Linked DNA regions of Homo sapiens. The protein of the gene in region 5 interacts with the protein of the main gene of each other region in a biochemical or structural test. Each region holds a gene or a part of one and is shown on either strand. Other genes may lie near its edges. The genes, in order: FCRL3, KIT, HSPD1, NOX4, PTPN11, KDR and CAV1.

Region 1 (3,987 bases), on a different chromosome or scaffold from region 5:
TCACTTTCATTTCCACCCATGAGGCAAGAGCCACAGTTCTATACACACCTGCAAATGGCCCCCACCCACATTGCCATGTGGCCCCAAATACCTGATTCTTCCTTGCCCTACAAGGGTGAACCAATTCCCAGAAAATGTTCTTGAGAAATCTTCACATGTCTTTTCACAAAAGAGGAATCCCAGACTTGAACCCCTTTTTGCCTGATGGCCCCTGGGTCACCCACAATTCTTTGGAGGTAGATGGATAGACAATCCAGCATCATGCTGCTGCCCTATCTCTTTATTTTCCCCACTGGGGTCAGTGCATCAATCCCCATGTCTGCTTACAACTCTGCCTAGGATCCCTGCATTAACCCGGCCCTCAGGCATTCTGCCTGGTGGCTTGACTTTAGACACTCCCCTTCCATTCCTCACCAGGTGAAAATTCCACATGCACGGCATCACTGAGGGAGGATCCTCGGGTCTTACATTGGTAATTTCCAGGCTCTGTAATTTGGATCTTGTCATGTTTTATTTTCAACAACTTCTCATCGTGATACCAATATGTGTCTCCCTGGGCTAGGGAATGTGATATGCTGCTGCATATGAGAGCCACTTTTTCTCCTTTGAAGGCTGTGGACCATGGAGGATTGAGGAGAAGTACAGCTTTTGGGGCCACCCCTAAACAGGAAATAGAAAGATGAAGGCAGGGGAAGGTCAATGGGAGGTGGGCACAGCACATGGGGAGCCCAACCTACAGTCAGGAGTTTTCCTGGACTAATTTCCAGTCAGGACCAGGGTGGAAAATTGAGCAGAAATAACCTAGGGAAATGCCTGGGAAAGAATCTGTTCTTCCTCATCCATTTCCTGGAGGTGGGCAGAAGGGTATTATAGGGGAGAGGTCTCAGTTTCCTGGCATAGCCTCAGAAAAGCTCAGGAGATGTGATTTGCCATTGGGCAAAAACTGCGAAGGCCTCAGAATGTGGCTGATCCTGAAATTCTCTTGTCCTATACATTTCTGTCCAGATAAAGGTGAACCTGGGATGTATATACCTCAGAAGTAGTTTCTAGACTCCAGAAAATTACTTCCTACTTGTTAACACTTAAAATGAATAAGATTTTCTCACTTGTATTACTTTTATATCTCTCTTAGCTTTGAAAGTCTATGGGGAAGGCAACTTTACTCTCCATTTAAGTTGGACACAGTAAACAATGGAGGGATATAAAGAATTTAAATGGAGGAGGATGGGTTGCCTGAGAAGTCAGACTTGTGTATGGAATTGCAACTGACTGACAGGCATGGAAGTGAGGTGTGGCAGTGGCATGAGCTCTTTTTGGAGATTTATAAGGATTCTGCTGTAGCATCTTCCTCCGTGGATGGGATCTATTTCTATGTCCTTTGATAGCAGCACTAGCTTGGACATTCAGAGGGAGATGTACTAGAGAATATGGAGATCACATATGAGATTCCTTCATCATCAGCCTCTTGCCTCTGTCCTTTGCTCTGCAAGTGTTTCCTTCCTGTAGTCTGAGGAATACCGGTAATGTAGGGAGAAAAAAAAAAAAAAACCTAGAGACTGAAAAAGTCGGAGGAGGCTCTGTTCACCCAATATAGTAGCAGATGTGACCCCAGAGCATTAGCATTGCTGATGGGATGCGTGCCTGCAAGGGTTAGGGCAGGCTGTGTGGGCTGAGGGGACCAATATCCAGAGACCAGAGGGGCAGAGAGAAGGAGAAACTTACCTGATTGTTCTCTTCCAGGAGCTGTGAGGGAGCAGAAAATGACAATCAGACACTCTCCGAAACATTTTCTAACAACCTAACCACAACCACTTCTTTTGTTTTTCCTTATCATTTCTTTGCTCCCTTTTTATATCATCCAGAGCCCCTAAACAACAAAGAAAATGTCATATAATGTATTTTACAAACGTGATGGCTTATGTCCAAGGCCTGACCTCATCTCTGCTATTATTTACTTGGCCACGGCACACTTTATTCTCTCCTTCTCTTCTCTGAGTGCAGAGGCAGACAAGGACTTACAGAAATGGTTTATCCTCCTTTCGTTCCTTGGGCTCCTATTGTTCCCCTCACTTTTTCAATCTCTGATTAAATTTTGGCTTAAAACTTCTAGAAAACAGTGATGTTTCTCAGTAAACCTTCCTTCACGTGCCTAGGTTTTTAGAAGTAACTGCTCATCTGAAAAATTATTTAGTCTGAGGCTTAAGAGGGAGGGTGGGATATAGAGTTGTGGTTTGGCAGAAGGAAAAATCCAAGTTTCCTATGAGGTGAGAAAAGCAGTGGGTGAGAAACCAAGGTCAGGATATCTGGCTTGCTCTGATGGTTGCATTTGGAGCCTCTTGGTTGTCCAGGGAACCCAGCTCTGCTCACTTCCCATCCCTTGCTATCTGTCTCTGAACCCCAAGTAGAAGCAGAGATAGAAGCTCCTTGAGTTTTTCCCTGGTCACCTTTAGGAACTGAGGCCGTGGCCCCATTATAGCCCATCTACTCACTCAGGATCAGCAGCAGCAGCCACAGAAGCATGGGCACCGGCCGGGCAGAGGGTTGGGAAAGTCTGTCTCACCAAAAGCCCGACTTATCTCCAAGAAGGAGGGCAGGAAGCTGCTACTCAGATGAGACCTGCAAGAATCAGAAAAGGGAAGAAGAGCTTAGTGTCATATTTTGCTTTGGGCTCTGAAAATGTGAATGTGGCTACCTTCCTAAATGCTGTTTGTATCTCAATCCCGGTAGTGATACATTTTTAGAAGTTGGGGCTCATCTTCCATCAGCTGCAGTCTCTCAGGAGTAATGTCTCCAAGACTGTGCCTGGGTTCTCTAGAAATATCAAGTTGTGTATTTGCTAGTATTCAAATAATTCTTTCTGTATTTTTCATATGGGAAACCCCTTCACTACCTTGTCTTCACACAGCCTTTGGTTCTGCATGCAGCTCCTAATGTAGGCAAGCTTAATGAGCGTGGTGTGAATCACACAGTCAAGGTGTCAAGCATATGCCTTTTTGACTTTCACATAAGTTGTTATGAGGCTTCTGAACAGGAAAATAATACAAATGTACAGATCAAGGACTTCCCGTAATCTCACCCAGATCTGCAAATTAGGAGATAAATCAGCAAGCGTACCACCGTTTTTAAAGCCAAAGCCCTTCTCAGAAAGGGCTTTGCAATCAAAGAGGTTCCACCCCATTATTTTGTTTCAGGTCCTTTGTGTTTTTTTCACAGTGTTTATAACAATTTGCAATTATTTTCTCTATTTCCTTGTTTGCTTTCGTGTCTTCTTTCCCACTAACATTTAAGGGCCCCTTTTCTTACCCCTTATATCCCCCGCACCTCTAACTGTTCTTTCTTGAAAGCATTCCTTTAGTAAGTATTATTTGAGGGACTATTGAATAAAAACTCTGAACCAGTGTTTCTCAACCATTTTTTCGTTATTGCTCCCCTAAGGATCTTTTTTAGACAATTTTGTTTTTAGCCACCCCCTTTTTCCATGAAAATTTAATACCACAAATATACTATGTATGTGTTTATGTGCTGCATGTATAGCTGTGTTTGATACATTAAAAAATTAGTTTTTTTCATCTTCCCAAGAGTCAATTCTTGCCCCTTTGAAGGTGATATAACTTCTGTTAGGAAGGCGTGTTTTAGACTTAGAGGTAAGCCATTCTTGGGAATCTACCTACCAGGATAAAGTTGTCATCATTCAGATACCTTTACATTAGAAATGGGAGATGATCTCAGATCAAATGTCCCATCCTCAGGGTGCCCAACCTTGGCAGGTAATGGAAAGAGGGTCCTCTTTTTTAACAAATATTATTATGTTCTTTCTCCCATGGAAGTCACCAAATTTTATCATTCTCTATATGTTTATGTGATTGTATAATGCCTATTTTTCTCATTAGATAGTATTACAAGGTTTGGGAACAAGCCTGGTTTGTTCTTCATTTTGTTTCAATGCCTAACAGAGCACTTGTCACATACCAATTTGTCAATAAGGAC
Region 2 (3,259 bases), on a different chromosome or scaffold from region 5:
TGATAATTTTTGGGTTAAAGCTTGTTCTTCTGGGTGTCAAAACATGTTTCAAATTGAACAGCATTTTCCACCCAGTTGCTTTGATTCTTGACAAGAGACCCCTGGAAGGGCCGTGGGTTTCCCAGCAAATTACATTGGTTATTGGGTTGTAGTTGCTGGAGAGATTTACAAGCCTTTTAAATAGGTAAGATAGTGCTTGGTGCCTGGTGTGCCCTTTTAGAAGAGCTAAGCTTGTGCATGTTTTGTCCCCACTTCTTGTATAAAGTTATTTCCTTGGAAAAATGAAGGGGGAAAACAAAGCTTATATTTGTTTTGTCAGTATGACTTGGGTTTTGGCCACAAAGTTCTTGGAAACCACTTCTCTCTTAAGAGTTTCCATCAGTTAGTTGTGATCTTGACACTGTAAGTATGCCTTTTGTTGCTATGTTCGTTGTAGGGACTGCTGTATTGACTATGGGCTTGTTTTCTCCAGATTTACTCCAACTTAGCAAACTGCAGCCCCAACCGACAGAAGCCCGTGGTAGACCATTCTGTGCGGATCAATTCTGTCGGCAGCACCGCTTCCTCCTCCCAGCCTCTGCTTGTGCACGACGATGTCTGAGCAGAATCAGTGTTTGGGTCACCCCTCCAGGAATGATCTCTTCTTTTGGCTTCCATGATGGTTATTTTCTTTTCTTTCAACTTGCATCCAACTCCAGGATAGTGGGCACCCCACTGCAATCCTGTCTTTCTGAGCACACTTTAGTGGCCGATGATTTTTGTCATCAGCCACCATCCTATTGCAAAGGTTCCAACTGTATATATTCCCAATAGCAACGTAGCTTCTACCATGAACAGAAAACATTCTGATTTGGAAAAAGAGAGGGAGGTATGGACTGGGGGCCAGAGTCCTTTCCAAGGCTTCTCCAATTCTGCCCAAAAATATGGTTGATAGTTTACCTGAATAAATGGTAGTAATCACAGTTGGCCTTCAGAACCATCCATAGTAGTATGATGATACAAGATTAGAAGCTGAAAACCTAAGTCCTTTATGTGGAAAACAGAACATCATTAGAACAAAGGACAGAGTATGAACACCTGGGCTTAAGAAATCTAGTATTTCATGCTGGGAATGAGACATAGGCCATGAAAAAAATGATCCCCAAGTGTGAACAAAAGATGCTCTTCTGTGGACCACTGCATGAGCTTTTATACTACCGACCTGGTTTTTAAATAGAGTTTGCTATTAGAGCATTGAATTGGAGAGAAGGCCTCCCTAGCCAGCACTTGTATATACGCATCTATAAATTGTCCGTGTTCATACATTTGAGGGGAAAACACCATAAGGTTTCGTTTCTGTATACAACCCTGGCATTATGTCCACTGTGTATAGAAGTAGATTAAGAGCCATATAAGTTTGAAGGAAACAGTTAATACCATTTTTTAAGGAAACAATATAACCACAAAGCACAGTTTGAACAAAATCTCCTCTTTTAGCTGATGAACTTATTCTGTAGATTCTGTGGAACAAGCCTATCAGCTTCAGAATGGCATTGTACTCAATGGATTTGATGCTGTTTGACAAAGTTACTGATTCACTGCATGGCTCCCACAGGAGTGGGAAAACACTGCCATCTTAGTTTGGATTCTTATGTAGCAGGAAATAAAGTATAGGTTTAGCCTCCTTCGCAGGCATGTCCTGGACACCGGGCCAGTATCTATATATGTGTATGTACGTTTGTATGTGTGTAGACAAATATTTGGAGGGGTATTTTTGCCCTGAGTCCAAGAGGGTCCTTTAGTACCTGAAAAGTAACTTGGCTTTCATTATTAGTACTGCTCTTGTTTCTTTTCACATAGCTGTCTAGAGTAGCTTACCAGAAGCTTCCATAGTGGTGCAGAGGAAGTGGAAGGCATCAGTCCCTATGTATTTGCAGTTCACCTGCACTTAAGGCACTCTGTTATTTAGACTCATCTTACTGTACCTGTTCCTTAGACCTTCCATAATGCTACTGTCTCACTGAAACATTTAAATTTTACCCTTTAGACTGTAGCCTGGATATTATTCTTGTAGTTTACCTCTTTAAAAACAAAACAAAACAAAACAAAAAACTCCCCTTCCTCACTGCCCAATATAAAAGGCAAATGTGTACATGGCAGAGTTTGTGTGTTGTCTTGAAAGATTCAGGTATGTTGCCTTTATGGTTTCCCCCTTCTACATTTCTTAGACTACATTTAGAGAACTGTGGCCGTTATCTGGAAGTAACCATTTGCACTGGAGTTCTATGCTCTCGCACCTTTCCAAAGTTAACAGATTTTGGGGTTGTGTTGTCACCCAAGAGATTGTTGTTTGCCATACTTTGTCTGAAAAATTCCTTTGTGTTTCTATTGACTTCAATGATAGTAAGAAAAGTGGTTGTTAGTTATAGATGTCTAGGTACTTCAGGGGCACTTCATTGAGAGTTTTGTCTTGGATATTCTTGAAAGTTTATATTTTTATAATTTTTTCTTACATCAGATGTTTCTTTGCAGTGGCTTAATGTTTGAAATTATTTTGTGGCTTTTTTTGTAAATATTGAAATGTAGCAATAATGTCTTTTGAATATTCCCAAGCCCATGAGTCCTTGAAAATATTTTTTATATATACAGTAACTTTATGTGTAAATACATAAGCGGCGTAAGTTTAAAGGATGTTGGTGTTCCACGTGTTTTATTCCTGTATGTTGTCCAATTGTTGACAGTTCTGAAGAATTCTAATAAAATGTACATATATAAATCAAGTGGAGTCATTTGATTGTTGAGATTCGTTGAGATTAAACTTTAAAGCATTAAAGTGCAATCATCCTGACAAAGTTTTGTACGCAGTTTTCATAAAATATGTGCAGGGCTATCAGATCACGCTAGGATTTACATGCTTCGAGATTCAACAGATATTAAGAATTTTCATACGTGTGATATTTTCTCATTTTAGTCTTACAACCTGAGGTCTCTATTTAAATTGAAAAATAGATACAGAGAAGGTGCTTAGTATGTATGAGCTGGGTGCTGTCATGTGGGTGAAACATTATGCATGCCCAATTGGTACCGTCCAGACCACTGGAACCCAAACAGAGGCTGAGAGTTCTTCAGCTTGAAACAAAAGGAAGCACCCTGAATCACATAATCTTATTAAGAATGAGGCACCCACACACCCTCAGTCATGACTGTCTTTATTGACGTGACATCTACACCTGCAGAAATGTCTCCTGAAAGGAAAGGGAAGGGGTGAAAAGTGACCTGT
Region 3 (3,757 bases), on a different chromosome or scaffold from region 5:
ATCTGTCACCCAGGCTGGAATGCAGTGGCACGATCTTGGCTTACTGCAACCTCCACCTTCTGGGTTCAAGCAATCCTCCCGTCTCAGCCTCCCAAGTAGCTGGGACTACAGGTGCAGTACCATGCCCAGCTAATTTTTTTACTTTTAGTAATGACGGGTCTCACTGTATTGCCTAGGCTTCTCAAACTTCTGGACTCAAGCAATATGCCTGCCTCCGCCTCCCAAAGTCCTGGGATTACAGGCATGAGCTACCGAGCTCAGTTTTGAAAGGTAGAAGTGTATGCTACAAGGGATGTAGGACTTGAGAGTCAAGGCCTATGGTCTTGTCCTGGCTCTACCAGTAAGTGTGACCTTCGATGTTTTTTTCTCAAGTAAGGCTGGTAATAATTACCACAGTTGTGAGAATTGAGAATTTGGAAATGCAGTGAAAGAGACTATACTCAAGTCTTGTTCTGGACTAACAGTGATCTTAAAATCTCTCATTTCAAAGAAATAAAGTATTTTGATGATTCTCTTGCATGGTGTATTAATAAACTTGGTATAATGGCAGAAACTGTAACCTACAACAGGTTTACGTTTAACTCTTTTTGTAGGTGTTTGGAGAAGAGGGATTGACCCTGAATCTTGAAGACGTTCAGCCTCATGACTTAGGAAAAGTTGGAGAGGTCATTGTGACCAAAGACGATGCCATGCTCTTAAAAGGAAAAGGTGACAAGGCTCAAATTGAAAAACGTATTCAAGAAATCATTGAGCAGTTAGATGTCACAACTAGTGAATATGAAAAGGAAAAACTGAATGAACGGCTTGCAAAACTTTCAGATGGAGTGGCTGTGCTGAAGGTAACATTCATTATTATGAATAAGTTTCTTGGGTTCTGAGTCCAAGAATGATTTTGCTTCTGTAGTATTCCCCAGTAGTACCATAGAACTAAACGAATACTTGAGGAATTAACTTCATAGTGGAATTTTGTTTGTTTTGTTTTGAGCTCTTCGTCACCCAGGCTGGGATGCAGTGGTGCGATCTCGGCGCACTGCAACCTCCGCCTCTTGGGTTCAAGCGAATCTCCTGCCTTGGCCTCCCGAGTAGCTGGGATTACAGGCACTTGCCACCATGCCTGGCTAATTTTGTATTTTTAGTGGAGACAGGGCTTCACCATGTTGGTCAGGCTGGTCTCAAACTCCTGACCTCAAGTGATCCACTCACCTCAGCCTCCCAAAGTGCTAGGATTACAGGTGTGAGCCACCACGCCCACCTCAGGATTGCTTTTTAAGTAAACTGCTTTTAAATGACTTGGCAATTAGCATCTTGAATGAAGAGGCCATACTAACTGGAATTCTTTTCGTCTTTAGGTTGGTGGGACAAGTGATGTTGAAGTGAATGAAAAGAAAGACAGAGTTACAGATGCCCTTAATGCTACAAGAGCTGCTGTTGAAGAAGGCATTGTTTTGGGAGGGGGTTGTGCCCTCCTTCGATGCATTCCAGCCTTGGACTCATTGACTCCAGCTAATGAAGATCAAAAAATTGGTAAAAAGTTACCTTTTAAATGAGTTTGTGGCCTGATTTTAGTTTTTCTTAGAATAATAATGTTGCAGTCCCCTAAATGGAATAGCACATTCATTTCCTGAATAACAGAAGTAGAATAGTGCTAATGTCAGAGCTAAACATGCATCACATCTTTTTCAGAGGAAATGATTTGATCTGTAGTAGGATTGGGATTTCCCTACATCAATATCCTCACAACTTATAAATGTGTTACAATATTTACAAATGAAAGTATTAAAATTTTGCTGAAATTTCTCTGTAGGTATAGAAATTATTAAAAGAACACTCAAAATTCCAGCAATGACCATTGCTAAGAATGCAGGTGTTGAAGGATCTTTGATAGTTGAGAAAATTATGCAAAGTTCCTCAGAAGTTGGTTATGATGCTATGGCTGGAGATTTTGTGAATATGGTGGAAAAAGGAATCATTGACCCAACAAAGGTAAATGGTTGAACACTTTCTAAAAATTCTTTTGTTGTTCATTTTGTTAATGTATCCTCACATCCCAAATCTTTGATTTTGTCACCAGAAAAATAGTCTAATAGCAGTAGCAACAGCAATAGCTCTTGTGCCCATCAACAATTCTCATGTACATTTCCAGCACCTAGATATTTAATACTCCACTAAAAGGAAGCAGGATCCCTTGAGTAGCAGTTGAGTCCATGCCTGGAGGCAGGAAAAAATCAGGATGGATCTGGAACACCCTGTTCCTGCCTGGCAGTAAGAATACTTTCCAAGATACGCAGAACAGGGTTTTGTTTTGTTTTGAAGACAGAGTCGCTGTGTCGCCCAGGCTGGAGTGCAGGCAGTGACAACCTCCACCTCCTGGGTTCAAGCGATTCTCCTGCCTCAGGCTCCTGAGTAGCTGGGATTACAGGCATGCACCACCATGCCTGGCTAATTTTTGTATTTTTAGTAGAGACGGGGTCTCATCATGTTGGCCAGGCTGGTCTTGAACTCCTAACCTCAAGTCATCTACCTGCCTCAGCCTCCCAAAGTGCTGGATTACAGGTGTGAGCCACCATGCCCAGACAGAAATTTTCAATAAGTCTTGCTCATATTTTACTAAGGGAAAACTAATTAATTAAATTTTTTTCTAGGTTGTGAGAACTGCTTTATTGGATGCTGCTGGTGTGGCCTCTCTGTTAACTACAGCAGAAGTTGTAGTCACAGAAATTCCTAAAGAAGAGAAGGACCCTGGAATGGGTGCAATGGGTGGAATGGGAGGTGGTATGGGAGGTGGCATGTTCTAACTCCTAGACTAGTGCTTTACCTTTATTAATGAACTGTGACAGGAAGCCCAAGGCAGTGTTCCTCACCAATAACTTCAGAGAAGTCAGTTGGAGAAAATGAAGAAAAAGGCTGGCTGAAAATCACTATAACCATCAGTTACTGGTTTCAGTTGACAAAATATATAATGGTTTACTGCTGTCATTGTCCATGCCTACAGATAATTTATTTTGTATTTTTGAATAAAAAACATTTGTACATTCCTGATACTGGGTACAAGAGCCATGTACCAGTGTACTGCTTTCAACTTAAATCACTGAGGCATTTTTACTACTATTCTGTTAAAATCAGGATTTTAGTGCTTGCCACCACCAGATGAGAAGTTAAGCAGCCTTTCTGTGGAGAGTGAGAATAATTGTGTACAAAGTAGAGAAGTATCCAATTATGTGACAACCTTTGTGTAATAAAAATTTGTTTAAAGTTAATAATTGTGTTAGCATTTCCATGATTAGAAGATACTGAAAATTGAAAGCCAGTTGAAGGGCAGGCTGGCATGTGTGTAAAACATTATCCTATCTATGATATTTTCATGTTTCTCTTTGTTGCAGACTGAACTACATTATTCCATTGATAATGGGGAAAGACAGTTTCTATTTTCCCCGGTGCAAGGATGTAATCTCTCTTGGAGCTGTAAAATCTGGGAGGTTGGAGGGAACTCCAGCTCCTCAGCATGGCCTTTGGGCTGCTGCTGCAAGCAAGGCATTGAGGCAAATATTTTTGCTGTCCTTACCTTGGACAGAAGTAGAGGGGAGAAATAAAGTCCATCATCACATGAAAAGTCAGTCACTTGAAATCCTGTACCTAGAATACCTTTGGCTTTGGTAATTTCGTTGTGTTTGGGGTACAAAAAAAAGGATCTATTTGATAGCACAACGGGGTGACTATAGTCAATAATAATTGTACATTTAAAAATAAAAGAATGTAA
Region 4 (4,024 bases), on a different chromosome or scaffold from region 5:
GGCTATTAGAAAATTGTGTGAAGTCTAACAGGGACTTGATATGAATTCATTTTGATTTTTAAAACTGAGGACTGCAATCATTAATCAGTTCATTAAATTAATTGGAATAAGTATATTGCATGTAGTGAGAGTAGTAGTATTTTTTGAAATTTTAGTTTTAATTATATCCTATGGCCTGTGTTGTAAGATTTTTTATTTTAAGAGTTTAAAAGCCATTCGATTAAGCAACTAGTAGTAAACTTTTCTGTCTCTCATTAGTTGTTAAATCTAGAAAAGTTATTGGTTTAACAAACCTTTATTGGATATCTATTTTGCATCAGATTTTTTTCTACATGAATGACATTTTTTTCTCTCTCTTTTCTAATACTGATTTGTTGCAGTGTCGAATAGGTACCTGGGTCAACTCCACACACTTCTCACTCTTCACTGGACCTCTGGTACAAGATTGAGAGGATTCCTATTACTTACAAACAGACTAGGTATTAAAACAAAAAGATTCCCGAATAGAGTGAACCTAACCTAGAGCCCCTAAGAATTACATCAGCTTTAACCATTAATTCCCTGGGTTCTTCTTATTCAGTAATGTCTTAAAACCTTTTTATCAGTATGGGATGGGCGGGCAAGGGGATAAAGAAACTGGCGGCTGGTGGGAAGCCTTAGGTAAGGCTGTCAGGGGGGCTTTAGTTTGGGAGTGGGATAATTTGCTGAGGAAGGGTGGGAGAAACGTGAACTAGCACACAAAAGGCTGTTTCCGGCTCAAATTTCGTTACCAAGGCTCTTTGAGATGAACTTTTTTGGGGGAAAACAATCAGTCTAAAAGAGCTGTGTCTTCTTGTGTGTGTGTGTGTGTGTGTGTGTGTGTGTGTGTGTGTACAAGGGGGCGGCGAGGGTCCCCACTTTTAGTATGAGTAGCATTGTTCACATGTTTGCCAGTATTTTGGAGCCTGGCAGGCCTGGGTAGAGGCTGCGGGGGACGCCTCCAAGTTCCCACCCGGGACATCCTGAACAGCAGCAGCCACAACAACAGGCTCGCCCCTAGACAAAGGGGCCGGCGCGGCGGAGCAGACTGGTGCAGCCTGGGCCGCGCGCTCAGAGCGCTGGGCGTCTGGGCAGCTGAGTGGGCAGAGCTGACCCGGTGCGGGTGGGAGTCAGGGCGCCCGGAAAACCCGGCTCTGGGTAGCAGACCCCGCCCGGGCTGGCTCGGCGCCGGGCCTTCGGGCTTCCACTCAGTCTTTGACCCTCGGTCCTCGCTCAGCGGCCCGGCAGGCCGCACAACTGTAACCGCTGCCCCGGCCGCCGCCCGCTCCTTCTCGGTCCGGCGGGCACAGAGCGCAGCGCGGCGGGGCCGGCGGCATGGCTGTGTCCTGGAGGAGCTGGCTCGCCAACGAAGGGGTTAAACACCTCTGCCTGGTAGGATGGCGGGCTAGGCTCTCCTTGCGTTCTCTCTGTCCTGCAGTGATTTTGATTCATTCTCTGAGCGTGCACGGGTGGGAAGCTGGAAGTGGAAGTTTTGTCTTAATTCGAACATTCTCAACTTACAAAACTTTATGCTGGAGATAACAATGAACACTCCCCCTCCCACCCCCTCGCCTGTCCCCCAAATGCATGAGAATTTTTCTGCACATTGATGGGAGAGATGTGGAGGAAGAGGGAAGAGGTCATTTTCCGTGAATACAGCTTTTCTTTTTACCCTTTAAACATTTTTGCTCCCTTTGTTCTTTTCCCAGATTACTTCTGTTTGCTTGGGGTATGGTGATGTCATTAATTTCTTAATCTCATTTTGTACGGCAGGGGATAGCTGTAAATCATTTAGGAAACCTATTTGCAACCCAAATGCTTAGTCTCAGGTGAAAGGGCTGGGTAAAGTCAGATTTGTTTTCCTCTGAGTGGTTTTCAGCTTGCTGGTTAATTGAAAATGCTTTCTGCAGTTACTGATTTAGGTTCCATTGAAAGCACTGTGTCGAAGAATTTACCTGTGGTTTCTATTCATCAGGTAATAATTATTTTCAATTTTTGTTTTCTGTCTCTCATGTCTGATTGGTTTAGTTCATCTGGCTCTCCATGAATGTCCTGCTTTTCTGGAAAACCTTCTTGCTGTATAACCAAGGGCCAGAGTATCACTACCTCCACCAGATGTTGGGGGTAAGTAAGGTGAACTTGGATAATCTGGTGGAATGGGTTTAACACTGGCAGACATTGCTACAGGTTTGGTCAGTTCCATTCATTAAAGAAATGTGCACTCTTCACTTTGAAAACCTTTGTTGTTCTCTAAAGTGGTCACATTTTCCTGATTTATCATTTACACTTGTACAAGTTAAAAAGATTGACTCTCTCAAGAACCAAAGGTAATATCTGCTGAAGTGAAACGAATGAACCTGCCAGACCAGGTTATTGGTGCCTTAAAAAAATTGCTACTTATTGCCAGCTGCTAAGTACCCTGAAGGATCTGATTCACTAGGAGGATCAACCAATAACAAGCTTTTAGTATATACTTATCAGTGCTTTTAGCCTGCTCATGAGCTTATCCAGAGGATTTCTGCACTGTTTGTTTTTACTGACAACTCTCACAAAATATGGGTCTAATGGGGTTATTCATTTCTGGGCAGTTCTCAGTGCTTGCTTTGGGTTAGTGGCTGATGATATTCCAGTATTCTACTATAATATGAGAAAGATACTGGGCAAAACTTTTTTCTGATTTATTTTATGTTAATATTTTTCTTTCTTTTCTATGATGTTTCTGATTTCATTCTTCTGTTCCATCTCCTTCTTATTTGACTGCTTAACAGAAGATAGTGTCACTGAAGGCATATTACTTTGCACAAGGAGATTGCGTTTTCTTTTTCTTTCTTTCTTTCTTTCTTTTTTTTTTTTTGAGACAGAGTCTTGCTGCGATGCCCAGGCTGGAGTGCAGTGGAGTGATCTCAGCTCACTGCAACCTCTGATTGCCTGGTTCAAGCAATTCTCCTGCCTCAGCCTTCTGAGTAGCTGGGACTACAGGCACGCACCAGCACACCTGGCTAATTTTTGTATTTTTAGTAGACACAAGGTTTCACCATGTTGGTCAGGCTGGTCTAGAACTCCTGACCTCAAGTGATCCGCCTGCCTCAGCCTCCCACAGTGCTGAAATTACAGGCGTGAGCCACCATGCCCGGCTGAGATTGCATTTTCTAAGCAACAAGCAAAAAGTGTAAAACCCTGCAAAAACTTAGGGAACCTGAAAAAATAGATTTTGCATTTTGGTGAGTGGGGGGGTGCAGAAAAAAACACATTTTGCTTTTTTATTTTTTTTCATGGTTTAATGACTACTTAAAATTAAGACGAGCTCAGACAAATTCAGTGGAACCAGCTCTCCCTTCTATGTTTTACATGGAGAGATCTTATTTATCTGTAATTCTCAGTACCCAGACTAGTGATTGGCACATATTAAGCCTGCAACAAGTTGCAGTTGAATTAATTAATTAATTTTTTATACAACAAAGTAATATCATAATCTGTTGATCACACACTTTATAAAGTTTAACTTCTAGGTTTTAAGCCAATGGGTTGAAAAAAATAGTCTGTAAAGCTAAACCCATTTCATTTATTTCTTTCATCCATCCAATCCAGGAACTGTCTTGAAACCTATACATTTCAGATGGGCACCCAGAGAGTAAGACCTCACCTCGCCCCTCAAGTTGCTTACAATATAATGGAAAAACCAACAAATAAATAATTATAATTCAATAAACAAGAAAAGGTTTCTTCTAATAAACACATGAGGTCTGATAACTTTTTGGTTTTGTTTTCTAGTATTTCCCCATTAGGTGTAACTTAATGAATAGGACGTTTTTCAGTGGAAGCTTTATCTCATCTATTACATAACTTGATGAACAACTTGGAGAAAACTCTTTAGATATAGAATGGTAAAATTTGCTCTGGATCACGAGGTATTTGTATTAATATAAAAATCTAAGAACTGGAAATTTATTGCAATAACCTAGAAAGCCATAACTGAACTTTGGATTTTAGCTTTGTGAGATAGTAT
Region 5 (3,500 bases):
CCTTTTACATCCCTTTTAAAAATGTCACTTAAGGCTGGGCAAAGTGGCTCATGCCTGTAATCCCTGCACTTTGGGAGGCTGAAGTGGGTGGATTACTTGAGGTCAGGAGTACAAGACCAGCCTGGCCAACATGGCGAAACTCCTTCTCTACTAAAATTAGCTGGATGTGGTACATGCCTGTAGTCCCAGCTACTCGGGAGTCGAGTCTGAGGCCCAAGAATTGCTTGAATCGGGGAGGCGTAGGTTGCAGTGAGCTGTGATCAGGTCACTGTGCACCAGCCTGGATGACAGAGTGAGACTCTGTCTCAAAAAAAAAAGTCACTTAGCTTAGATTGTCTCTACATATATAGGAAGAAGATGTAGGAATGAATGGTGCTGCTACAATTACGTCATCTGGATAGACCCAGAAACATGATACTTTTTGGTTTTCTGTAGCCTTGGTGCCATTGTTGATCTTTATTAATTATCATTATCCTCAAAATAGCCATAATGTGCTGAGTCTCTTCCTATTTGCTGGGCAGAGGCTGAGTATTTCAGCGAGCTCACTGAGTCCTTAAAATTGCATTATGATAGAGAGAAAGAGATTATTATTTGCATTTTGCAAAATGAAGAAATTGAGGTTTAGAGATACCCAAGGGCCACGTGAGTGTGAGTGCCTGGAATTGGAGCCTAAATCTAGTCATCTGATAGCAAAGCCTGTTTTCTTATCTGCTTTGCATTAAATATAAGTTTAAAATAGAACAATACTGGCCAGGCTGGGTGGCTCACGCCTGTAATCCCAGCACTTTGGGAGGTCGAGGCAGGCAGATCACCTGAGGTCAGGAGTTTGCAACCAGCCTGGCCAATATGGCGAAAGAAACCCCATCGCTACTAAAAATACAAAAATTAGCCAGGCATGGTGATGTGTGCCTGTAATCCCAGCTACTTGGGAGGCTGAGGCAGGAGAATGGCTTGAACCCGGGAGGCAGAGGTTGCAGTGAGCCAAGATCACGCCACTGCACTCCAGCCTGGGCAACAGAGTAAGACTCTGTCTTGGAAAAAAAAAAAAAAAAGAATGATACTATAGTCTGTGTTTATATGGTGGGGAAGGTTGAGTATCAAAAAAATAACAAAGAGGAATGAATGTCTTAAGTGAATGCCTGTTTCCCCATCTGCTTCCTCTTCTGCTGGGAGGAGAGACCTGGATCCCTAGAGGTTTCAGTTGCCTCCAGAGCTGAGTGCCACAGGGATGCAGGGGAATAGGGATGTTACCTGTCGCTGGTAATTCAGAGAGATGATTCAGGGTATAGTTACCTGAAAGAACAAATTGCCATGCCAGACGTCTTGGTTCTTATGACAGAGGCAAAGAGTTGCCTCCAGGATTGCCCAAAAGGAGACGAGTTCTGGGAACCTCACGAAGAGGACCTTTCAGTGGAACCTGGGGAGATTCTCTTCCTCTCCATTGGATTTAGGAAAGCTTAGAACCGGGTGATTCCTCAACCTCTTGATTTATTTAATTCTTTTCTGGTTTTTCTTGGCTCTACTCCAGGGGAATACGGAGAGAACGGTCTGGCAATACCACTTTCGGACCTGGCCGGACCACGGCGTGCCCAGCGACCCTGGGGGCGTGCTGGACTTCCTGGAGGAGGTGCACCATAAGCAGGAGAGCATCATGGATGCAGGGCCGGTCGTGGTGCACTGCAGGTGACAGCTCCTGCTGCCCCTCTAGGCCACAGCCTGTCCCTGTCTCCTAGCGCCCAGGGCTTGCTTTTACCTACCCACTCCTAGCTCTTTAACTGTAGGAAGAATTTAATATCTGTTTGAGGCATAGAGCAACTGCATTGAGGGACATTTTGATCCCAAGGCATATTTCTCCTAGACCCTACAGCACTGCCATTGGCCATGGCCATGGCAACATGCTCAGTTAAAACAGCAAAGACTAAGTCAGCATTATCTCTGAGTCCACCAGAAGTTGTGCATTAAACAACTTCATCCTGGCTCTGCAGTTTCTCCTTATTCTTCATGATGTTTGCTTTGTAGCTGTTGACTGCTTTGTAGGTATTGAGGTGGTGGGGGTGTGGTGGAAATAGGCCTGACTCTTGAGGATCCCTTAAGTCATTTTTGCTTGGTTCTCTTTTTCCTTCTTTTCTTCTACTCTTCTATGATTCATCTCTTTGATTGTGATTCTGTTCTCTCTCTCTCTCTCTCTTTTTTTTTTTTCGTTTTTGAGACAGAGTCTTGTTTTGTTGCCCAGGCTAGAGTGCAGTGGTGCCATCTTGGCTCACTGCAACCTCCGCCTCCCGGGTTCAGGCCATTCTCCTGCCTCAGCCTCCCAAGTAGCTGGGATTACAGGCATCTGACACTACGCCCGGCTAATTTTTGTATTTTAATAGAGACAAGGTTTTGTCATGTTGGCCAGGCTGGTCTCGAACCCTTGACCTCAGGTGATCCACCTGCCTTGTCCTTCCAAAGTGCTGGGATTACAGGTATGAGCTACCATGCCCGGCCCATTCTGTTCTCTTCTACCATAAATATATTTCTCCCCTAACACTATATTTGTTTGCTTCACAAGATTCCAGCTGCTTTTCCACCAAGGCCTTTGATGGAAGCTGTGCTGTGACCTCTGTAATGAGTCTGTGGGCTGCTGATTCTCCAGTTTGGGCTTCATGATTATACTGGGGAATATTGGGTTTCCTAAATCTCATTCATTTCTTGGGCAAGTAGATATATGTGAAAGTGTTTATTTGTCCAGTTGTTAAAGAAGCTACCATTTATTGAGCCAGCCTCTGAGCACAATGTTTTTTGTTTTGTTTTGTTTTTAATTTTTAAAATTATTTACTTCTTCTATTTCAATAACTTTATTATTATTATTTTTTGAGACAGAGTCTCACTCTGTCACCCAGGCTAGAGTGCAATTGAGCGATCTTAGCTCACTGCAACCTCTGCTTTCTGGGTTCAAGCAATTCTCATGTCTCAGCCTCCCGAGTAGCTGGGATTACTGGTACGTGACAACATGCCTGGCTAATTTTTGTGTTTTTAGTAGAGACGAGGTTTTGCTATGTTGGCCAGGCTGGTCTGGAACTCCTGGCCCCAAGTGATCCTCCTGCCTCGGCCTCCCAAAGTGCTGGTATTATAGGTGAGAGCCACTGCGCCCGGCCCTCTTTCAGTAATTTTGATGTATTTTTTTGTATATGATTCCTGTTTCATTCTGTCCAACCAGCACTCTGTATGGTATGTGCTGTTGTCCCCATTTCACAGATGCAGAAATTAAGGGTCAGAGAGGTTAAGGGACTTACCTCAGGCACGTTGTACTGGAGAAGCTGAACTCCAAGAGCAGGTTTGGGCTGACTCCAAAGCCCTATGCTTTTTGCCAACATATTTTCAAACATAAATAGACAATTTTATAAATAGCTCCAAAGAGTAGACATTGTTTCTGTTGATATTAATGGCTTGGTTTTGAGTCTGAAACCCCCATGAATGATTCTGTTGTCCCTGCTTTTTGTCCTTCTGCCCGCAGTGCT
Region 6 (3,500 bases), on a different chromosome or scaffold from region 5:
AAAATTAAGGTGATTTTCTCAAGGCCAGTTCAATTTAATTCCAGTTCAATTACAGTTGACCCTTAAATAACACAAACTTGAACTACATGAGTCCACTTATAAGCAGATTTTCTTCCACCTCTGCCACCCCTGAGACAGCAAAACCACCCCCTCCTCTTCCCCCTTTTCCTCAGCCTACTCAACGTGAAGACAAGGATGAAGACCTTTATGATGATCCACTTACACTTAATGAATAGTAAATATATTTTCTCTTCCTTACAATTTTCTTAATAACATTTTCTTTTCTCTAGCTTTATTGGAAGAATACAGTATATAATACATATAACATATAAAATATGTGTTAATTGACTGTTTATGTTATCAGTAGGGCTTCCAGTCAACAGTAGGCCATTAGTTATGTTTTGTGGAAGTCAAAAGTTATACCTTGATTTTTTTTTTTTTTTTTTTTTTGAGAAGGAGTTTCACTCTTGTTGCCCAGGCTGGGGTACAATGGCACGATCTTGGCTCACTGCAACCTCCACCTCCTGGGTTCAAGCAATTCTCCTGCCTCAGCCTCCTGAGTAGCTGGGATTACAAGCTCCCACCACCACACCAGGCTAATTTTTTGGATTTTTAGTAGAGATGGGGTTCCACCATGTTGACCAGGCTGGTTTCGAACTCCTGATCTCAGGTGATCCACCCACCTCAGACTCCCAAAGTGTTGGGATTACAGGCGTGAGCCACCGCGCCCGGCCTATACATGGATTTTTGACTGCAGAGGAGGGAAAGTTAGGGGAACTCCCCTGAGTTCCCCCAATCCCTGAGTTGCTCACAGGTCAACTGTATATTGCTAAATGTTTCCCCAGTTTGCAAAGCTCATGCTTATTCAAGTAGGCCTCTCAGCCTTGCAATAAAATGAAAATTTAAAAACTACCTTAGCTAATACTATTTATCATAGTAACAATCCTAATAGCAGCAATAACTATAATAAGTAATACTAAATGAACTCTTACTGTATATCAGCACATCTCATCTTTAAAGTTGAGGTTTGAACCCAAGTTCCTGACTACAAAGCTATGCTCTTGACCTCTAGGTCATGTGGCCTCCCTAACAAGAAAAACTAGAAACTATCTTCTGAATGAACAAAATAGGAATCACTAAGTGACCTAAATTTATTTAAATTATCTCACTTGTCAAGGCACAGAATAATTTCCAAGACCATAGCTTACCATGGACCCTGACAAATGTGCTGTTCTTCTTGGTCATCAGCCCACTGGATGCTGCACAGGTGTACAATCCTTGGTCACTCCGGGTTACACCATCTATAGTTAAGGTGCTCAAAAATTTCTTCATCTCACTCCCAGACTGGGTTTTTAGGTCTCGGTTTACAAGTTTCTTATGCTGATGCTGAAAAAAAGAGTTGACTGAACTTCCAAAGCACAGCATATAACATTACCCAATAACTTCTAGTAACACACAGAATTAAATCTGGGCTTTGGTAAACATTATTTAATGCTAAAAACAGGGACACCAGAACTTTTAACCTCATGCAGACAACAAATATATTTTGTTTCAGGAGAAATAAATGGAACCAACTGAATTAGGATTTTTAAAACCTCACGTGGTGAAAGTGAGATGGATATAAACTGCAGAAACACAAGTAAATGTGACCACTGTTTAAGGAGCAGTGTATCTCATGCCACCTCTTAAAGAGAAATTCCCTTAAAAGGAATGTAGATCAAAAACTTTGGAGAACAGAGAAATGACATAATGTGGAAAGATGTAATCACCTAGAGAAAACTAATATTCATAGCCTGGCTATTGCAGAATAGGACAAAATTCCTGGTATTTCACCTTTTGGTGGGTGCTATCTGTTCTGCAATTCCCTTAAATTGTGTGTGTGTGTATGTGTGTGTGAGTGGGTGTGTATGTGTGTGTGTTTAAGGCTCTTACATTTTATCTGGCCAAAGAGGCCCCTATCTCTCAAGCAAACTTCACTGGGGCTTATTATCTAAGTATTTGGAGGTCTGGCTTTGAATCATTAGCGTTACCTTCGAAGAAGGGTATTCCCAGTTGAAGTCAATCCCCACATTTAGTTCAGTTCTTGCTGTACAATTTAAGACAAGCTTTTCTCCAACAGATAGTTCAATTCCATGAGACGGACTCAGAACCACATCATAAATCCTATACCCTAGAGCAAGTAAATTGAAAAAACAGAACATGAGAGAGCAAATAAGCCTATAACTTTGCACAGATTTATTTTTTAAAGTAATGCAACTTTAAAACATGCCACATTGTTTTTCCCTGCAGGCCTCACCAATACTTGGTAGCTCCCAGGAAAATGGCCAACAGAGGTTTACAAAGCACTACCTTCACAGATCTCAAAGATGTTGTAACCCAGTGGACAGAAAAGTAGTAAACTTTCAGTGGTCAGTAGCCCTAGGCCAGTAGGGCCAGCTTTAGCAAATTGCTGAAGTTTCCATAAAATAGTCATAATTGAAATAATTGATAGCAAGCAATGCTCTGAACATTGAATTCTTCATAAAATGTGCTCGAGTAATACCATTCGCTTTCATCCTTTTTTTAAAAAGTTTTCTTTTTCTTCCTTAATCTTGGCAAGAAAAGAGACAACCTCAATTGCACATGGGTTTATTTGGTAGAGAAGAGCAGATGAATTGCCCAACACCATATCCTGAGTTCCTATACTTTTCAATATCCTTCTTCACTCTATGTTGTTATCTCCAAGATCTTAATACAAGGATATGTTATTAATGATATGGAAAGGAAATGTCCTCTTACCTACAACGACAACTATGTACATAATAGACTGGTAACTTTCATCATTAATTTTTGCTTCACAGAAGACCATGCCAGCATAGCTGATCATGTAGCTGGGAATAGTAAAGCCCTTCTTGCTGTCCCAGGAAATTCTGTTACCATCAGGAACAAATCTCTTTTCTGGGTATCTCTGGGTAATAAAAAGACATATCAAATATTTAATCCAGTACCAAAAATGAGAGCCATGTACAATGATCACTGAAGAATTCATCTTATTTTTAAGAATACTAATTAGTTTTATTCATTGCATTTGACCCTTCCTAAAGGATCCTTAAAACTCATTGTGAATATTATAAACAGGTTACCCATCTTAATATTAGCTTAAAATTATAAAAACTTAAGAGACGATTGGAGGAGATGCAACTTACTGCACAAAGTGACACGTTGAGATTTGAAATGGACCCGAGACATGGAATCACCACAGTTTTGTTTTTGTTCTCAGTAATGTACACGACTCCATGTTGGTCACTAACAGAAGCAATAAATGGAGATCTGTAATCTAGAAGAAAATTTAGTTTTATTAATGAGTTAATAGTATTTACTAGAAAAGTTGGTCATTTTTCAGGTTCCTAAACTCTAACCAGACAAGTGAATGACTGGAAGGGACACCTCACACAACCAAAGGCATCCACAGATTATTCTGCTGATAGATATCTGTGCTACATGAGGGTGTGTGTGTATGT
Region 7 (3,500 bases), on a different chromosome or scaffold from region 5:
CTAAAAACATTACCTTAAAGGGAGAGGATATTTGTGTTTTCCCCCACCCCCACCCTTCTCATGTGGCTTTGAACAAGAAGGAGAGTTGCCAGGAAAAGAGGCAGATTTCAGAGAGGGCTGGCTTCACTGGATCCTCCCTGTTGTTCCACTGCACTGTGAGTGAGATTCCCTGGAGCAAGCGAATCTCCCGGGATGAGTCAGAGAGGCCAACAGTGTGGATGTGGGTCTCCACACATAGCATGACTAAGTTGAGAAAGAAAGGCCCCACTGGGAAAAGAGACTTCAACACAGATGGAAAAAAAACATAACAGGCTTGGAGGAAATAGCAGTTTACAAAACAGCATTTCAAAGAGCAAGTGTGGGGATCCTCAAATTAAAGAAATTAAAAGAAAAAGCTAGAGCAAGCTCCTGCTAGCCTAAAGAAACCAAACCCTGACTACTTGCTCATAGAACTGTGAGCAAAACAAGACAGTCAAACCAAAAAATCCACCTAGAAAAGAATTTGGCAGTCTCACTCAGATGCCTGGCCTAGAGGGGACTTCAGAGAATGCCCTACAGAGAGACACCAAGACTACAAATGCAAATTCTGCCCAAAGAGTGCCTGGCCGATGAACAGGGTCCTATCTACATCTTATGGAGACTCCTATTTTATAAATATGTATCCTCAAGTCCAAGCACAAACAAAATAACAGAAACAGGGATGATTCTCTCCCAGTTTCCATGACAGTAAATAATAAATTTCCCTAAATTTTACTTTCAACAACATAGACTTTTTTTATTTTTATTTTTATTTATTTATTTATTTATTTTTTGAGACGGAGTCTCACTCTGTCACCCAGGCTGGAGTGCAGTGGCATGATCTGGGATCACTGCAACCTCCACCTCCCAGGTTCAAGCAATTCTTCTGTCTCAGCCTCCTGAGTAGCTGGGACTACAAGTGCACGCCACCATGCCGGGTTAATATTTGTATTTTTAGTGGAGACGGGGTTTCACCATGTTGGCCAGGCTGGTCTTGAACTCCTGACCTCAAGTGATCCACTGGTCTTGGCCTCCCAAAGTGTTGGGATTACAGATGTGAGCCACTACACCTGGCCAACAACACAGACTTCTTAAAAAAATCATGACAATAATTTTGGGTGCTTCTTAAAAGCACCCAAAGCTTTACTGCTAATGCATGGTAGCTTAAAACTTCACATAATAAGAAAGAACCAGTGGCCAATGGAATCTACTGTTAAAGGTACCCAATCAAGTAAGGAAAAGTTGGTCCTAAAAGCAAGCAGCCCTGTAAAAGCTGCTCTGTCCAATATGGTAATCACTAGCCATTTGTGTTTCCATTTAAATTTCAAGTAATTAATATCAAGTAAAATTTAAAATTCAGTTCCTTAGTCACACTAGCCACGTTGTGAGTGTGCAACAGGTAAAGCTAGTGGCACAGACATAGAACATTTCCATCAGCACAGAAATCTCTATTGGACAGTGCCAGATTAGGGTGTTCTCTGCATTGTAAAAGCATCCCCTTGCCAAGTTAAAGAAAACAACAACAAAACTCTAGAGAAGAAATGAAACCCCAGTTTCATTTCTGGAGAGGAAAGAAAACTCATGTGTGGCATGAGTTTATATTCAAGAAGGTGCAGCATTATTACCTATTTTACTAGTAATAATGACACACATTATAGTATACAATCCAGTTCCAATAAAATTAATTTCTCATCTTACTAAAAGCTTGCTGCTCCACATTATGAGACAATTTACCCAAATATAGACATTTACCCAAAAATATTAAGTAGCTTGTGAATACTTTTTAAAATTTCCTTTAATTAAAGTGGTCACAAACTCAAACCCTTCATTCTCCCTCTGAGATTTCTGTGTCATCTTTTGTTCACATTGTTATTCACATGTTTATTATGTACTTATTTTGATTTTCTAGATAAATAAAATGGCTTCAAATCTATAATTCTGATAAAATTAGCCATCAATTAATTTATTTATTAAACCCATGCAATATGCTAGATTAGATGCTTTGCTATGTAATTCCTACAATAAATCCTAGCAATCACAAAGATTACAGTTAGTGAGACGACATGCACACAGGTAAAAAGTGTTTTTAAAAAATACATACATACAACCAAAACAGTAAGTCACTGCTACATGGAAACTGATTGGTCCTTTTTCCTTTTTTTTTTTTTGCCTTGACTGCCAGGAAGCAGTTTCAAATCTATAGCTGGATTTTAAGTTTCATTAATTCATGTTCCCACATATGGTTCTGTATTTTCACTTCCCCCTTTTAACTGACATACTGTCTTATGTGATCTCTACTGTAAGCCTTCTCATCATTTTGGAAACAGACCAAATATAATATATATGATAAGGAATCAAAAGTAAATACAGTAGTGTTGAATATTGCATAACAAAAAGGTTTTTAAATAGGGAATGGTATCAATATGAAGTGTTAGGGAGACCCAGCCATGAAAAGGATAGCAGGGTCAGAGAAGGAGGATGTATTGCAGCTGGTTTAATGGAGAATGGTATGAAGGAGGTGCAGTTTGAATTGGGTCATGGAGGACAGATGGATTGCAAATAGCTGGGGCAAAAGCACAGGAAGGCATTCTAAACGAGCCAGGCATGGAGACAAGAATGTCTCCCACAAGGGAGTTGTAGTAGCTCAATCAGACTGGGATTTGAGATTTCATGTGGCAGAGTGGTAGGTGATAAAGGTGAAAAGACTGATCATAGTAAAATGCGGAGTCTGTAAATCCAGCACTCATGATAAGTTTGGACATCATGTCAACAGTGGACAGCCATAAATGACTGCAAGCATCGGTGTGGTATAATGAAGGTGACGTTTTTGTAAAATGACTCTGGTGAAGGTACAGAAGGTAATGAAAAGTAGCCAGTCTAGTTGAGCAGAAAAGAGTTCAGATGTAATTGCATCATGGTCCAGATGTGAAATGAAGACAATGCGAAGTGGCATTGTGGATCGAAACATACATGCACAAAATGACAGAATTTTAGAATTTGAAGGGATCATCATGGTTACCAGGCTGGCCTCCAATTCCTCTTTTGTAATATTAATAGAAATTAAGGGCTAACAAGTTTAAAATGTTATCCATCTTTTTACATAGTTACTGCCCAAAGTGAATATTTTGAAATGTATCATTAAAGAAGAATAGATAAGATTATGTGATTCACCATGGACTATTGTCATGAGAGGAAAAATGTGTTTAGATGATTCTGTTAGCACTGAGACAAATCAGGATATCTGAAAGGAGGTCTTTGTTGAAAAACAGAAATATGCATTCATAACTTGCTTTTCTAAAATTGGAATGTAATGATTCTTAAATATGCACAGACACAAATTTTTCTTTAACAGTCAAGAAAATGCACGCAGGTGATAATCAGATCAGTTTTGGTTATAGTACAAAGGTTTAATGCCTCCGTGATCCCTTTCAACTTGAAAGCATTCTAGAGCAATTGGTGATTAATATCAGTATAACAGTCAT

Evidence for each region.
Region 1: the proteins of PTPN11 (region 5) and FCRL3 form a complex in vitro, tested with the Homo sapiens proteins (one study listed by BioGRID).
Region 2: the proteins of PTPN11 (region 5) and KIT form a complex in vitro, tested with the Homo sapiens proteins (3 studies listed by BioGRID and IntAct, with this or other methods).
Region 3: the proteins of PTPN11 (region 5) and HSPD1 form a complex in vitro, tested with the Homo sapiens proteins (one large-scale study listed by BioGRID).
Region 4: the proteins of PTPN11 (region 5) and NOX4 form a complex in vitro, tested with the Homo sapiens proteins (one large-scale study listed by BioGRID).
Region 6: the proteins of PTPN11 (region 5) and KDR interact in far-western blotting, tested with the Homo sapiens proteins (one study listed by BioGRID).
Region 7: the proteins of PTPN11 (region 5) and CAV1 form a complex in vitro, tested with the Homo sapiens proteins (2 studies listed by BioGRID).

The regions. Positions count from the first base shown.
Region 1 is NC_000001.11:157,697,970-157,701,956, forward strand, and holds the start of FCRL3 (Fc receptor-like protein 3 isoform 1 precursor), read right to left. Parts: upstream 2,801-3,987; 5' UTR 2,693-2,800; intron 2,617-2,692; 5' UTR 2,521-2,616; coding exon 2,490-2,520; intron 1,744-2,489; coding exon 1,723-1,743; intron 661-1,722; coding exon 415-660; intron 1-414. UniProt on the Homo sapiens protein: Promotes TLR9-induced B-cell proliferation, activation and survival but inhibits antibody production and suppresses plasma cell differentiation. Enhances activation of NF-kappa-B and MAPK signaling pathways in TLR9 stimulated B-cells.
Region 2 is NC_000004.12:54,737,957-54,741,215, forward strand, and holds the end of KIT (mast/stem cell growth factor receptor Kit isoform 1 precursor), read left to right. Parts: intron 1-472; coding exon 473-601; 3' UTR 602-2,759; downstream 2,760-3,259. UniProt on the Homo sapiens protein: Tyrosine-protein kinase that acts as a cell-surface receptor for the cytokine KITLG/SCF and plays an essential role in the regulation of cell survival and proliferation, hematopoiesis, stem cell maintenance, gametogenesis, mast cell development, migration and function, and in melanogenesis.
Region 3 is NC_000002.12:197,486,084-197,489,840, reverse strand, and holds the end of HSPD1 (60 kDa heat shock protein, mitochondrial), read left to right. Parts: intron 1-593; coding exon 594-839; intron 840-1,349; coding exon 1,350-1,524; intron 1,525-1,804; coding exon 1,805-1,983; intron 1,984-2,642; coding exon 2,643-2,795; 3' UTR 2,796-3,257; downstream 3,258-3,757. UniProt on the Homo sapiens protein: Chaperonin implicated in mitochondrial protein import and macromolecular assembly. Together with Hsp10, facilitates the correct folding of imported proteins.
Region 4 is NC_000011.10:89,488,576-89,492,599, reverse strand, and holds the start of NOX4 (NADPH oxidase 4), read left to right. Parts: upstream 1-1,224; 5' UTR 1,225-1,353; coding exon 1,354-1,410; intron 1,411-1,621; exon of another isoform or gene 1,622-1,627; coding exon of another isoform or gene 1,628-1,747; intron 1,748-1,839; exon of another isoform or gene 1,840-1,915; coding exon of another isoform or gene 1,916-1,993; intron 1,994-2,046; coding exon 2,047-2,142; intron 2,143-3,606; exon of another isoform or gene 3,607-3,751; intron 3,752-4,024. UniProt on the Homo sapiens protein: NADPH oxidase that catalyzes predominantly the reduction of oxygen to H2O2. Can also catalyze to a smaller extent, the reduction of oxygen to superoxide. May function as an oxygen sensor regulating the KCNK3/TASK-1 potassium channel and HIF1A activity.
Region 5 is NC_000012.12:112,484,947-112,488,446, forward strand, and holds part of PTPN11 (tyrosine-protein phosphatase non-receptor type 11), read left to right. Parts: intron 1-1,516; coding exon of another isoform or gene 1,517-1,528; coding exon 1,529-1,683; coding exon of another isoform or gene 1,684-1,687; exon of another isoform or gene 1,688-1,977; intron 1,978-3,496; coding exon 3,497-3,500. UniProt on the Homo sapiens protein: Acts downstream of various receptor and cytoplasmic protein tyrosine kinases to participate in the signal transduction from the cell surface to the nucleus. Positively regulates MAPK signal transduction pathway. Dephosphorylates GAB1, ARHGAP35 and EGFR.
Region 6 is NC_000004.12:55,112,096-55,115,595, forward strand, and holds part of KDR (vascular endothelial growth factor receptor 2 precursor), read right to left. Parts: intron 3,317-3,500; coding exon 3,186-3,316; intron 2,948-3,185; coding exon 2,779-2,947; intron 2,171-2,778; coding exon 2,031-2,170; intron 1,387-2,030; coding exon 1,209-1,386; intron 1-1,208. UniProt on the Homo sapiens protein: Tyrosine-protein kinase that acts as a cell-surface receptor for VEGFA, VEGFC and VEGFD. Plays an essential role in the regulation of angiogenesis, vascular development, vascular permeability, and embryonic hematopoiesis.
Region 7 is NC_000007.14:116,528,036-116,531,535, forward strand, and holds part of CAV1 (caveolin-1), read left to right. Parts: intron 1-3,500. UniProt on the Homo sapiens protein: May act as a scaffolding protein within caveolar membranes. Forms a stable heterooligomeric complex with CAV2 that targets to lipid rafts and drives caveolae formation. Mediates the recruitment of CAVIN proteins (CAVIN1/2/3/4) to the caveolae.